2 separate regions of the Homo sapiens genome follow, and region 1 is linked to region 2. The links come from fine-mapping of genetic effects on gene expression. A gene starts in region 2. The other region holds a variant in brackets. All regions are shown on one strand. Distances are from middle to middle. Region 1 overlaps PXN (paxillin). Region 2 holds the start of PXN (paxillin).

Region 1 (5,367 bases), 33 kb after region 2:
ATGGGACCACAAGCAGCGTAGCACAGGGGGAAAACACTTGTGCGCGTCGACCTTGCACATCAACAAGTTAGACCAGAACATGGAGTGCACCAGCCTTCTCAGAATTCTTGAGCTCTCTGTACCACCACTAGGGGCTCCTCTGTGGCTCAAGACCCCTCCTGAGGCAGAGGGTGAGGAGGAGGCAGAAAGAAAAGAGAACAGGAGACTTGGAGTGGGCAGCAGTAGAGCGGAACCCAGCAGGCCCGCCTTTTTGGATTCCTCTGGGGGCTCTGGGGATGTGTGTTGTGGGAGTGGAGAGTGGTGACGAGCAGAGGACGGACAGCTGCTGAAAGCGATCATTCCTCTCCTTGTGGGGCATCCTGGGAAGAACATGGGTGATCTCTGCAGTCAGGCAGCGCAGTCCTCGTGGGGCCTTATGGGGCGGCTCTGGGTGTCTGCATTCTAATCCCTGGCAACAAATGGGGCTGCAAGGCTGGGCTCCTGGTAGATGCTCAGGAAGGGTTGTTCCACTCCTCACCCCCTCCTGAGCTGCTTTCTAGCCTCGCAGCCCCGTCTTTGGATCCCTTTTTGGCACTCTGCTGGGCTCAGAGCTTCCGTGGCAGGAGCAGAGGCTGCTCTCTCCTGGGTTCCTCTGGGAGCTACCATGGAGCTTGGGCAGTTCCTTCTATTGTTGCGATTCTGGGTTCAAAGCCACAGGCCTCTCAGACAGCTGTGACTTCCCGGCAGGCAGTAGGGATGGGGTGGGGGTGGAGGCGTTGGGGCCCTGCAGCTTCCCTCGCTTGCCTCTGTCCTTGCTAGGCAGTGAGTTGGAGGCGCCTGGGCTCAGCTGATGTTCTCCAAGGAGGACTTGGAATGAACCCGAGACACAAAGGGTGAGGTCAGTGGTTTGCTCAGCAAGAAGGCTGAGTTAGTGACAACCTGTCACAGCTCCCAGGATCCCTGGCTGCAGTCCCTGGCTCCGACTCCTCCCCCTGCTGGCCTTAAGGGAGATGAAAATCAGTGATGTGGATCTATTGACTGAGTGTCTCCTGTGTGTCAGAGTGGGAGGCTTACGTTTATTTTATCCCAGCCACCAGGATGGCTCTCACATTCTTTTTCATCCATTACTCACTGTGCGCTATGAGGTGCCTGAGTAAACTAAAGCCCAGAATTATCTAGTCACTGGTCACCCAGGCTAGTGAGTGGCGGATTTGAACCCATCCTCCTCACTGTTAGATGGCCCATTCCTTCCACTCTACCACACTGCCATGCAGGTGGGATGCCCAGAGGGTGTCCAAAGAACTGTGTGACCATCCTAGCTCCCAACGACAGCAGACCAGCCAAATCTGTGATATGGGCAGGGGTGGTTTTATGTGTGGACAGTGGGGGCTTTGTGGTGCTGCTTAAAATTGTTTGCCAAAGTCCCCAAGAGCAAAATCTTATCTGTTTTTTTTGTTTTGTTTTTTTGAGACAGAGTCTTACTCTGTCGCCCAGGCTGGAGTGCAGTGGCGCAATCTCTGTTCACTGCAACTTCTGCCTCCTGGGTTTAAGCCATTCTCCTGCCTCAGCCTCCCAAGAGGCTGGGATTACAGGCATGCACCACCATGCTCAACTAAATTTTGTATTTTTAGTAGAGTAGAGATGAGGTTTCACCATGTTGGCCAGGCCAACATGGTTTCGAACTCCTGGCCTCAAGCAATCTCCCTGTCTCGGCCTCCCAAAGTGCTGGGATTACAAGCATAAGCCACCATGCAGGCCTTGAAGCCTCTCTTTTTATCTTACGATTTCACTTGCATTTTGCATTTGACTCCATAATGTAGCCTTGTTTGTTTTAAGACAATGATTTACATTTCTTGCCCCTGAGTACATTTGATCCTCAGAGTGTTCTGGGTTTATCCTGAGGTGGCTTCCTGTACCCCTGGCTTCCATCTGTCCCCTGGGGGTATGGATATCCTTGTGCGAGAGGCTCAAACCAGGTGAATGATGATAGAGGTAGTGGTGGGACACATTCAGTATTGTGAAGAAAGGCACGCTGGCAAAAAGGGAAGCGGGGAGTCCAGTTTGGCTGGAGACATGGGTTGCAGTGAGGGGGACCAAGGAGGCAGTGAAGGTTAGTTTGGGGCCATATTCTGAGAGGGTCAAGAACAGAATGCCATCCCCAGGGTTTCTGACCTTGTTTTATAGGCAGAGAGGGCAACAGTGGGTGAGTATTATAACTCCACCCCTTGCTCTGCACACATTCATTCAAGCCCCTCTAAGAGGCCTGTGAGGGCCGGGCACAGTGGCTTATGCTTGTAATCCCAGCACTTTGGAATGCCGAGGTGGGTGGATCACTTGAAGTCAGGAGTTCGAGACAAGCCTGTCCAACAATGTGAAACTTCGACTCTACTAAGAAAATACAAAAATTAGCCAGGTGTGGTGTGTACCTGTAGTTCCAGCTACTTGGGAGACTGAGGCAGGAGGATCATTTGAACCCGGGAGGTGGAGGCTGCAGTGAGCTGAGATCATGCCACTGCACTCCAGCCTGGTTGACAGAGCAAGACTCCATTTCAAAAAAAAAGGAGGCCTATGAGGGTATCCATGCTGTGGGGATTCAGGAGCAGGAGGATGTTCTTGCCCACAGAGGACCTGCAGTCTAGGGGGAGAAGCAAGAGTGAAGTGTGAGGCATGCCCCAAAAAGGCTGGGTGCCAAGAAGTTCGGGCCGATGGTGTGTGCAGGAAGCGTTAGATTGGGAGAACCCAGGGCAGGGGGCTGCAGTCAAGTTCAGGTAGGCACTGAGCATGGATTCGAATGCTAGTCCAAGTGGTTGGCTGTGGTGATGAAAGGAAAGGGAGGCAAGTGATGACAGGGAGAGGCCCCGCGAAGGAAGAATTGATGTGACTTAGTGACCAGCTAAATGTGGGAGCTATTAAAGGGACTTAGAAAAGAGAACTGGGGAAGTCAGGCAAGCGAGAGCTGACTTC[G/A]GGAAATGACCTTGCTGCCTGAAAAAAGGGGAAGGTGCTGGCTGGTTAGTGAGAACCTGATTAGCAAAGAGTGGGTAACTAATGCTATGAAATCCACAAAAATCGCAAAAAAACTGCAGCTCATCTCAGGAACAGGCAAACTTTTGAACTTTTTGTTCGGGTCTCTGTGGGACGATGACTCACTTTGAGCCCCTCCTAACCTCTGTTGGTGATTAGCAGGGGTGAGAGGCCCAAGGAGCCGCCCTGCTCTGCAACAGATCAACTTGCCTGGAAGAGCCCAGATTGCAGGAATGGGCTGGGGTCGATTTGGAACAGCTGAGAACCTTTCCAGCCCATGAGTCTCCTGGGTTTGAGGCTGTCTTTTTTGTATGTGAATCTGGGTTTTACCCATTGAAGGAGCTGTGAGTTGGGCCTGGAATGGGGCCCTGGACTTGACCTGAAAAGGTCTAGCATCTCTGGGCGACCTAAAGAGGTGGATGACATCTGACCAATGAAATGTGTCCACAATGTTCTGGGACCTCTGGAGGAGGGAGGGCCCACTGATTCTGGACAGGAGAGATGAGTTATTTACAATATGAAAGAGACTCTGGGGATGGGCATGGTGGCTCCTGTCTGTAATCTCAGCACTTTGGGAAGGCCCAGGCAGGAAGATGGCTTGAGGCCAGGAGTTCAAGACCAGCTTGGGCAACATAGTGAGACCCTGTCTCTACAAAAAAGTTTTTAAAAGCCTAGTGTGGTGGCATGTGCTTTTAGTCCTAGCTACTCGGGAGGCTGAGGCAGGAAGATCCCTTGAGCCCAAGAATTCTAGGCTGCAATGAGCTGTGATCAGGCCTCTAGCCTGAGTGGCAGAACAAGACTTGTCTCAAAAAAAGAAAAAAAGAAGAGAAAGACTCTGGTGTTTGGCCAGCCTGGCCTGAACTCCTGTGTCTGTAGCCTAAGGCAGATGCATAGAAGTGCTCAGAGTCAACCTGGGCAGCCTTGTCTCACCTGCTGTTGCTTAAGCTCCTGGAGCCCAATTTGATGGGGAAGTGGCTGCAGCCAGGAGCCTGATGGGTGGGCCTTGTGTGTGCCTGGTGCAGATGGGCCTGGCACAGTTGGTCTTCTGCCTGGAGCTCAGGGTGACTGCTGGAGTTGCCTTGCAGCCATTATTTTCTCAGGTCTCTGGTTACCTGTGCCCTGTGACCTTGGGCACAAGCCAGGCAGCCAATAAAGCCAGTCTGTCTGCACACTCATATTGTGTCACCCTCTGCAAGGAAGAGCTCCTCAGCATACAGGAAGCCACCCTCCTAAGCTAGGCCTGTAGGAAGCCTGGGGAAGAACCACTTCATCCAAATGACCACCCCCTCCTCCCCTGGCGGCTGACTGGAAGACTCCTGGGCCTTCTCCCCTGGCTTCCTGTGTGTCACCCCCCAGCCCACACTTCCTTCAGGGCTGTAAGGGTAAAATGCAGTTCCTGTTGAGTGAGGCATGAGTCAGCGGAGGAGAATTGGTGGCTGAGTCTTTGTAACCTCCAGGCATGGCTATTAAATATTTAAATGACACTATGGTATTGATCGTTTCTCATCCATCCTCTTAGCAGAGCAGTTCCTGTCTGGGATTCAGATAATAGCAGAATCTTGGATTTAGACTAACTCGGAAGAGCTCAAAGGTGCTATATAAATCTCACCCATAATTGTATTATCTCCTCAGAGCATGCTACTAGGAATGGGGACAAATCGGGTTCTGCCCATTTTCTTGATAGAGAAGACATCCAGAGAGGTTAGAGGATCCGCTGAGGGGCCCCCACTCATCCGCTGGGCCTGGGATCAGGGCATCCTGGCTCCCCTCCTCCGCACTGGCTGTTTGCTCTGCTCACTGCTGCTTCCCCATCCTCCTCCTCTTCACAGCCCCTCTGTCATTCAGCCATTCATTCTAGCTGCTGGGGATATGGCATCGAACAAGACCGACAAGGCCCCTGCTCTCTGGAGCTTAATTCTTGGAGAGGAGACAGTTGACAAGAACCCAAATTGGCAGGGAAGGCCCCTCAAGGAGACTGAGTTCCTAGTCAGTGTCCAGGCCCTAGGTCCCTGGGCTGGGGGTGGGTGGGGCAGAGTGGATCTGGCCTAATTGTGGATTGGCCCTTACTGAGGACAGACGGTTATCAGGATAAATATACCCAGCTCACCATTCCTGGGGACTTACTCACCGAGTGAAAGCACCCCGCTGCGGATTAGATTACCTCTGCTCTAACTGCTCATGTGCTCTGGGCTGGGGGAGGGGAGGGGAACTTGGAGCCAGGGGGAGGGGGGAGACCCGCCTTCCCGTTCTGTTTTCCTTCCTAATCTGGAAGAGTCTCACCAAAGGGGCTGAGATGAGACCATCCCTGAGCTGGTCCTGCTGTTTACATAGCTCCTTCCTTAGGAAGGGCCAAGCCCTGCTCACTGC
Region 2 (5,367 bases):
GGGATTACAGGTGTGAGCCTGGTCGAGTTCTGTTTCTATTGCTGAGTGAAGAGTGTTATTTTGTGGTGACAAGGACCATTCTAAGTACTAGGTGTGTCGTTTCTTATTTAGTCCTATGAGGACTCTGAGAGGTAGCTACTATTAACCTTTCTATAGGGGAAGAAACTGAGGCACAGAGTAAATTGCCCAAGATGAACCACTAGCAAGAAGTCAGCAGGGTTGTCCATCTGCTCTGTCAATGTCGTTTAATCTTTAGGAAGAATGAAAAAACCTGATTGATTTTATCAAATGCAAGGGACTGAATGTTCATATCCTTGAAAATTCATATGTTGAAATCTAATCTCAATTCGATAGTGTTAGGAGGTGAGGCCTGACAGGTGATTAGGTCATGAGGGCAGGGCCCTCATGAAAGAGATTAGTTAGTGCCTTTATTAAAGGGACCCTCTTTGAGCCGTGTGAGGGTACAAAAAGTCAACAGTCTGCAACCCAGAAGAGGGCCCTCACCAGAACCTGACTGTGCTGGCACCCTGATCTTGAACTTTCAGCCTCCAAAACTGTGAAAAAATAATTTCTGTTGTTTATAAGTCACTCGGTCTACAGTATTTTGTTGTAGCAGCCTGAACTAGACACCAAGTTTAATTGCTGTGGGGTGAGAGTCCAAGGGAAGAAGGAAGCCAGGGAGGAAATGGGGGTTTAGGAATGATTTACATGAGGAAATCCCTGGCAGGGACCTGAGTGTTCGAGTGCACCAGCACTCAACTCTGAAGCTTCAGTTCTCTTTAGAACTCTGCATAGCAATGGGAAACTTGCCCATTCAATGGGTGCCTCGCATTTCCAGACCACACAGCTTTGAAAAAGAAAGGTTTTAGACCTTTGGAGAAGTGGACAAGCGTATGCCCTGGGGTTGGTCTAAGTTGTTAGCAGTTTCACTTAGCCGTTTCATAACCAGGCCTTGGCATAAGCCTCCCCAGGTTCAAATCTCAGTTTCCTTACTTATTAGCTGTATGACCTGGAGTAATTCAACCTCTGACTCTCAACTCTTCCAGCTGTAAAAGGGGCTAACAATGCTCATCTCCTAGGCTTGTGGTCAGTATTAAATGTCTTGTCTACAGACCTTTGCACATGCTGTTCCACACAGCTGGGAGTGGGGCGAGGCTACTCATCCTTCATGCTAACCACTTTGCTCTTTTGCGTGCACCTTTAGATTCAAGAAGGTAGACATCATGTTAGTCTTATTCATCATCCCAGCCTACGCAACAAAGCAAGACTGTGTCTTAAAAACACAAAAACAGGCTGGGCGTGGTGGCTCACACCTGTAATCCCAGCACTTTGGGAGGCTGAGGGGGGCGGATCACCTGAAGTCAGGAGTTCAAGACCAGCCTGGCCAACATGGTGAAACCCTGTCTCTACTAAAAATACAAAAATTAGCCAGGCATGGTAGTACACGCCTGTAATCCCACCAGGAGGCAGGAGATCACCTGAGATCAGGAGTTCAAGACCAGCCTGGCCAACATGGTGAAACCCCATCTCTACTAAAAATACAAAAATTAGCCAGGCATGGTGGTATGCGCCTGTAATCCCAGCAGGAGGCAGGAGAATCACTTGAACCTGGGAGGCGGAGGTTGCAGTGAGCTGAGATTGCACCACTGCACTCCAACCTGGGCGACAGATTGGGACTCCATCTCAAACAAAAACAAAAACACAAAAACTAAAACAAAATAGAGGTATGTGCAAGATGCTGGAAAACCACGCAATAGAGTGTTTGAGGAACAGTCTTTGGTCTTGAATTTATTATAGGAGAATGTGGCAGCCACAGAAGCTGCTTGGATCTGCCTTTATAAAATGACTGAACATGGTGGGAGCATTGGAACCCGGATACTTCTGCCCAAGGAGACTTCTCATTTTTTTTGTCCTGGAATTCCCTGATGGGTTGACCTGTTTGTCAGATCTGAGTCTCCTTGCCCAACCCTGCTTATTTCCCCTTCTCTGTCACGGGCATTACCCCTAGCTTTATCTCAGCATCTCATCTGCTTTCTGGAGGACCTGATCTGACCCAGAAGGCCTGGATTCTTGAGGGACAAGGGGAACTCGAAGCTGTACTTGCAGAGCAGTTTTATATAAAATCCACAAACTGCCATCACCCATCCCAACGGGTAGGGAAGTACCTCTAGGAGGATTAATTTAGAGAATAGCTATATAGTGTCTGTCTATTCAGACACTCAATAAATGGTAGTTGTTATTATTACCCAATTTCCGAGTGTGTGGGAGCACTGGGTGTGACTTTCCTGTAGTTTTCCCTTTAATGTCTAATCTGGGGACCCCTCTGCCCCATGCAGTTTTGGAAAAGTGTCTAGGGAGGGTGGCTGTGTGGAAGTAATATTAAGAGAGATGGAACCACACAGGTATTGGGTTTGGGCCAGAAAGGGTGAACTGCGAGCTGCACTGCCATTGATCCAGAGGACGACCCCAGGAAAGGTCAGCCACGGGCTCCGGGCCTTGCCTGGTACTGATTTATGGTCCTCCTGGGTGGTGACCTACAGGTGACAGACGGACAGGTGGGCAAAACTGACTGTCCAGTGGACAGGCATGTGATGACCCAGTGGCTGACGAATGCACAGACACATGGCTGACTGTGGACGGATTTGTCATCCGCAGGGTCAGGCAAGTGACTTTGAGAGGGACAGAAAGATGGATGGGAGTGGCTGGAGGCCTGGGAGCCGCCCACCTGCCCGCTTAGCCGCGAGGGGGCGCCACCGCCCCGCCCAGCGACGCCCACTGCCCGGGCTCTTGGCGGGGGCGGGACCAGCGTGCGCAGGGGGCGGGGCCAGCAAGCTCGCGGGGGTGTCCGGGGGCGGGGCGCGCGTGCACAGGGGGCGGCCGGGGGCGGGGCGCGCGGCGGGCGCGGGCGCGGGCGCGCGCGGCGGCGGCGCGTTCCGTTCCGGGCCGAGGCTCGCGGCGGAAAAGTTGCGGGGCATAGACGAGCGGCCCCGGGACGGGCAGCTAGCGCGACCCTGAGCCGGCGCCCGTGGTCCGGCCATGGACGACCTCGGTGAGTGAGCGGGAGGCCGAGGGAGGAGGAGGCGAGAGGCGCGCAGCTTGGGGCCAGGAGGGCGCCAGCGAGCGGCAGGGGCCGCGGGATCCCACCCTCGGCGGCCCCGGCCTCAGCTCCTGTCCCTGCCGGCCGGGGCTCCGCGGGGCTGGGATCCCTAACCGGGCCTTAGTCTCGGGCCAGGCCGGCCCCGGCACCGACCGCACAGCAGCGACCCCCCGTCTGGGACGGCTTCACCTCTGGACCCCCGACCTCGGGGACCCATCACCATCTCCCAGAAGGGCCCCAGGGACCAGCCCGCCCCTCAGGGACCCACCCCGTCCGCTGCAGGGACGAGACTTCCTGCGGCAGACCACCTCGTCAGCTACGGGACCCTCACCTCGCAGACCTCTCCCCACCCCCACCTCACAGATCGACCGCCCAACTCGGGGAGCAGCTGCCCGATCTCATGGGCTGCTCCCTCATTTCCTCGACCTGCTCCCCGTCCCTCCAGGGCCGCCCCCCACTTCACAGACTAGCACCCCCCTTCAGGGATAACCCCTCGGAGCCCACCCCTTTCATTTCACAAGTCAGATGCAAAAGCTAGAGATGAGCGTGTGATGACCACACCCCCATTTCAAAGACAAGTTTCCCAGTCTGCCTGCTCTTCTGACCCCCCACTTCAAATCTGGTCACCCCGTTTCAAGGACCCATCACTCATTTTCTCTCACTGACCTCCCCGCTCTGTGGACCAGCCCCTCAATTCACAGACCAGTCCGTCTACCATGGTATCTAAGTCTAGAACGGTAATTTGGGAGTCCTGATTCTCTCCCCACCCCTAGATTCTGGTGAAATGCCAGGGGAATGAGGTGGAAGGTGGGCCCCAAGGTATGACCATCCCTGAACGTGTCCTGGCTAGCAGAGTCCCCTCCACCCTCTCTGCGTCAGGCCCTGCTGGAAGCCACGCAGGTGAAAGAGGACAGGATGCCCAGAACAGAGTTTTACTGTTTTCCTGTTATTGGAGCCCCAAGGCTACTCTTTTCAGTCCAGTCTTGATCTGGTGTTAGGGGAAAGAAAGTATCTCCTGGAAGCCGACTCTAAACCCAAGGGGGTTGGTGCCAGGGTTCTAGGAATGCCTTGGGTGGCGTGAACGCAGGAGTGGGAGGATTCGCTGTCTCTCCCTCCCCTTCACGCCTGTAGCTGGAGGGCCCTGAGCTTGGGAGGTGAGGAGGGGGGCAACGTTTCTTCTCTGCAGGAGCCTTGTCTTTCCTCTCTGGACTGTGGGTGGCTTGTGTGACCACTGATGCTTCCTCTGTCCCAGGCTCTGAGGAGTAGATTCAGCAGACAGGACTGATGGACCTCTACCAAGCAGCGCCGGGCACTAAGTTAAGACTGGCTATTTGTAGGTGCTGGACTTGACTGCTTCCCTCCAGCTTCCTTTTGGGATCAGGGTGCCCCTGAGATCCTGGAGCTGGGGTTGGTGTAGGGTCCTGCCTGTTTTGCAGAGTGAGATGGCTGCCAAGCGTGGTTCTGCCTTTGGGTCAGGCTTGGCACCCATTTTTCCAGTGTGCTCAAGGTTGGCATGGCTTCCAGGCAGGTATTTTTTTTTTTCACATAAAAATAGCTCAGCTGGAAGGAGGCTGGGGGATGTTCTTTGAACCAGGATCTAAGAGTCTGAGTGCTTTCCCAGTGGGAACTGGGAGCAAAGTTACAGTTTCTAAAGTGCTGGTGCAGTTCTGTTGCTTCTCGGCAGTCCCCGTGCTGTTTCAAGGACTGAGAAAGTCTTTGTAGAGCTCGCCATCGAAATCTGGAATTCCTGTCTTCTGACAGTCTTCCATTTAGGGCCAGGAAACTGAGTTCTGAAAGGAAAGAGAGTACTGTATACGGGAGAGGGGATTGTAGGGATTTAAATTGCTGTTTGTGGAGTACTTCCCTCTACCTCGATTTGTGATATCCTCACAACAACCCTTTTATCAGATTCCACCTTAAAGCCAATGCTGTCATGACCACCTGCCTTTTTACAGATTGAGAAAGCCGAGACGAAGAGAGGCTGATTCTCTTGCCCAAGGCTGCACAGCCATGAAATGACAAAACCATAACTGGAAGCCCAATTCCTAGCTCCCAGATCTGTGGCTCTTGTATACCGAGAAGACTTTTTTTCCTGGGGAGGAGGCAAGGGCACTTGAAGGAGGGGTTGCCACTGGGTGATGGCGATCACCTGTAACTTCTACTGCTTTCTACCATAGACTCCCAGTTGCTTACATCCGGGCTGCCCGACTTCCTTGGCCTGAGCTCCCAAGGGGCAAGCCACGCCTGACTGACCGGAGCCTGGGGTGGGA

Evidence for each region. PIP is the estimated chance that this variant, and not a neighbour inherited with it, causes the effect.
Region 1: its variant is fine-mapped to the expression of PXN in whole blood (TOPMed, PIP 0.98).

The regions. Positions count from the first base shown.
Region 1 is chr12:120,230,488-120,235,854 of GRCh38, reverse strand. All of the region lies in intron 1 of PXN (paxillin), which reads left to right. Among named protein-coding and RNA genes, the nearest start is that of PXN-AS1, 32 kb to the right of the region's middle. RefSeq lists enhancers at 1,364-1,923, 3,044-3,603, 3,604-4,163, 3,643-4,842, 5,284-5,367. The variant G/A (reference allele first, on the strand shown) is at 2,944.
Region 2 is chr12:120,263,299-120,268,665 of GRCh38, reverse strand. It overlaps PXN (paxillin), which reads left to right and starts at 2,936. Exons shown (of 15, transcript NM_001385981.1): 1 at 2,936-3,049. The coding sequence starts at 3,037. RefSeq lists silencers at 2,629-2,908, 3,069-3,218.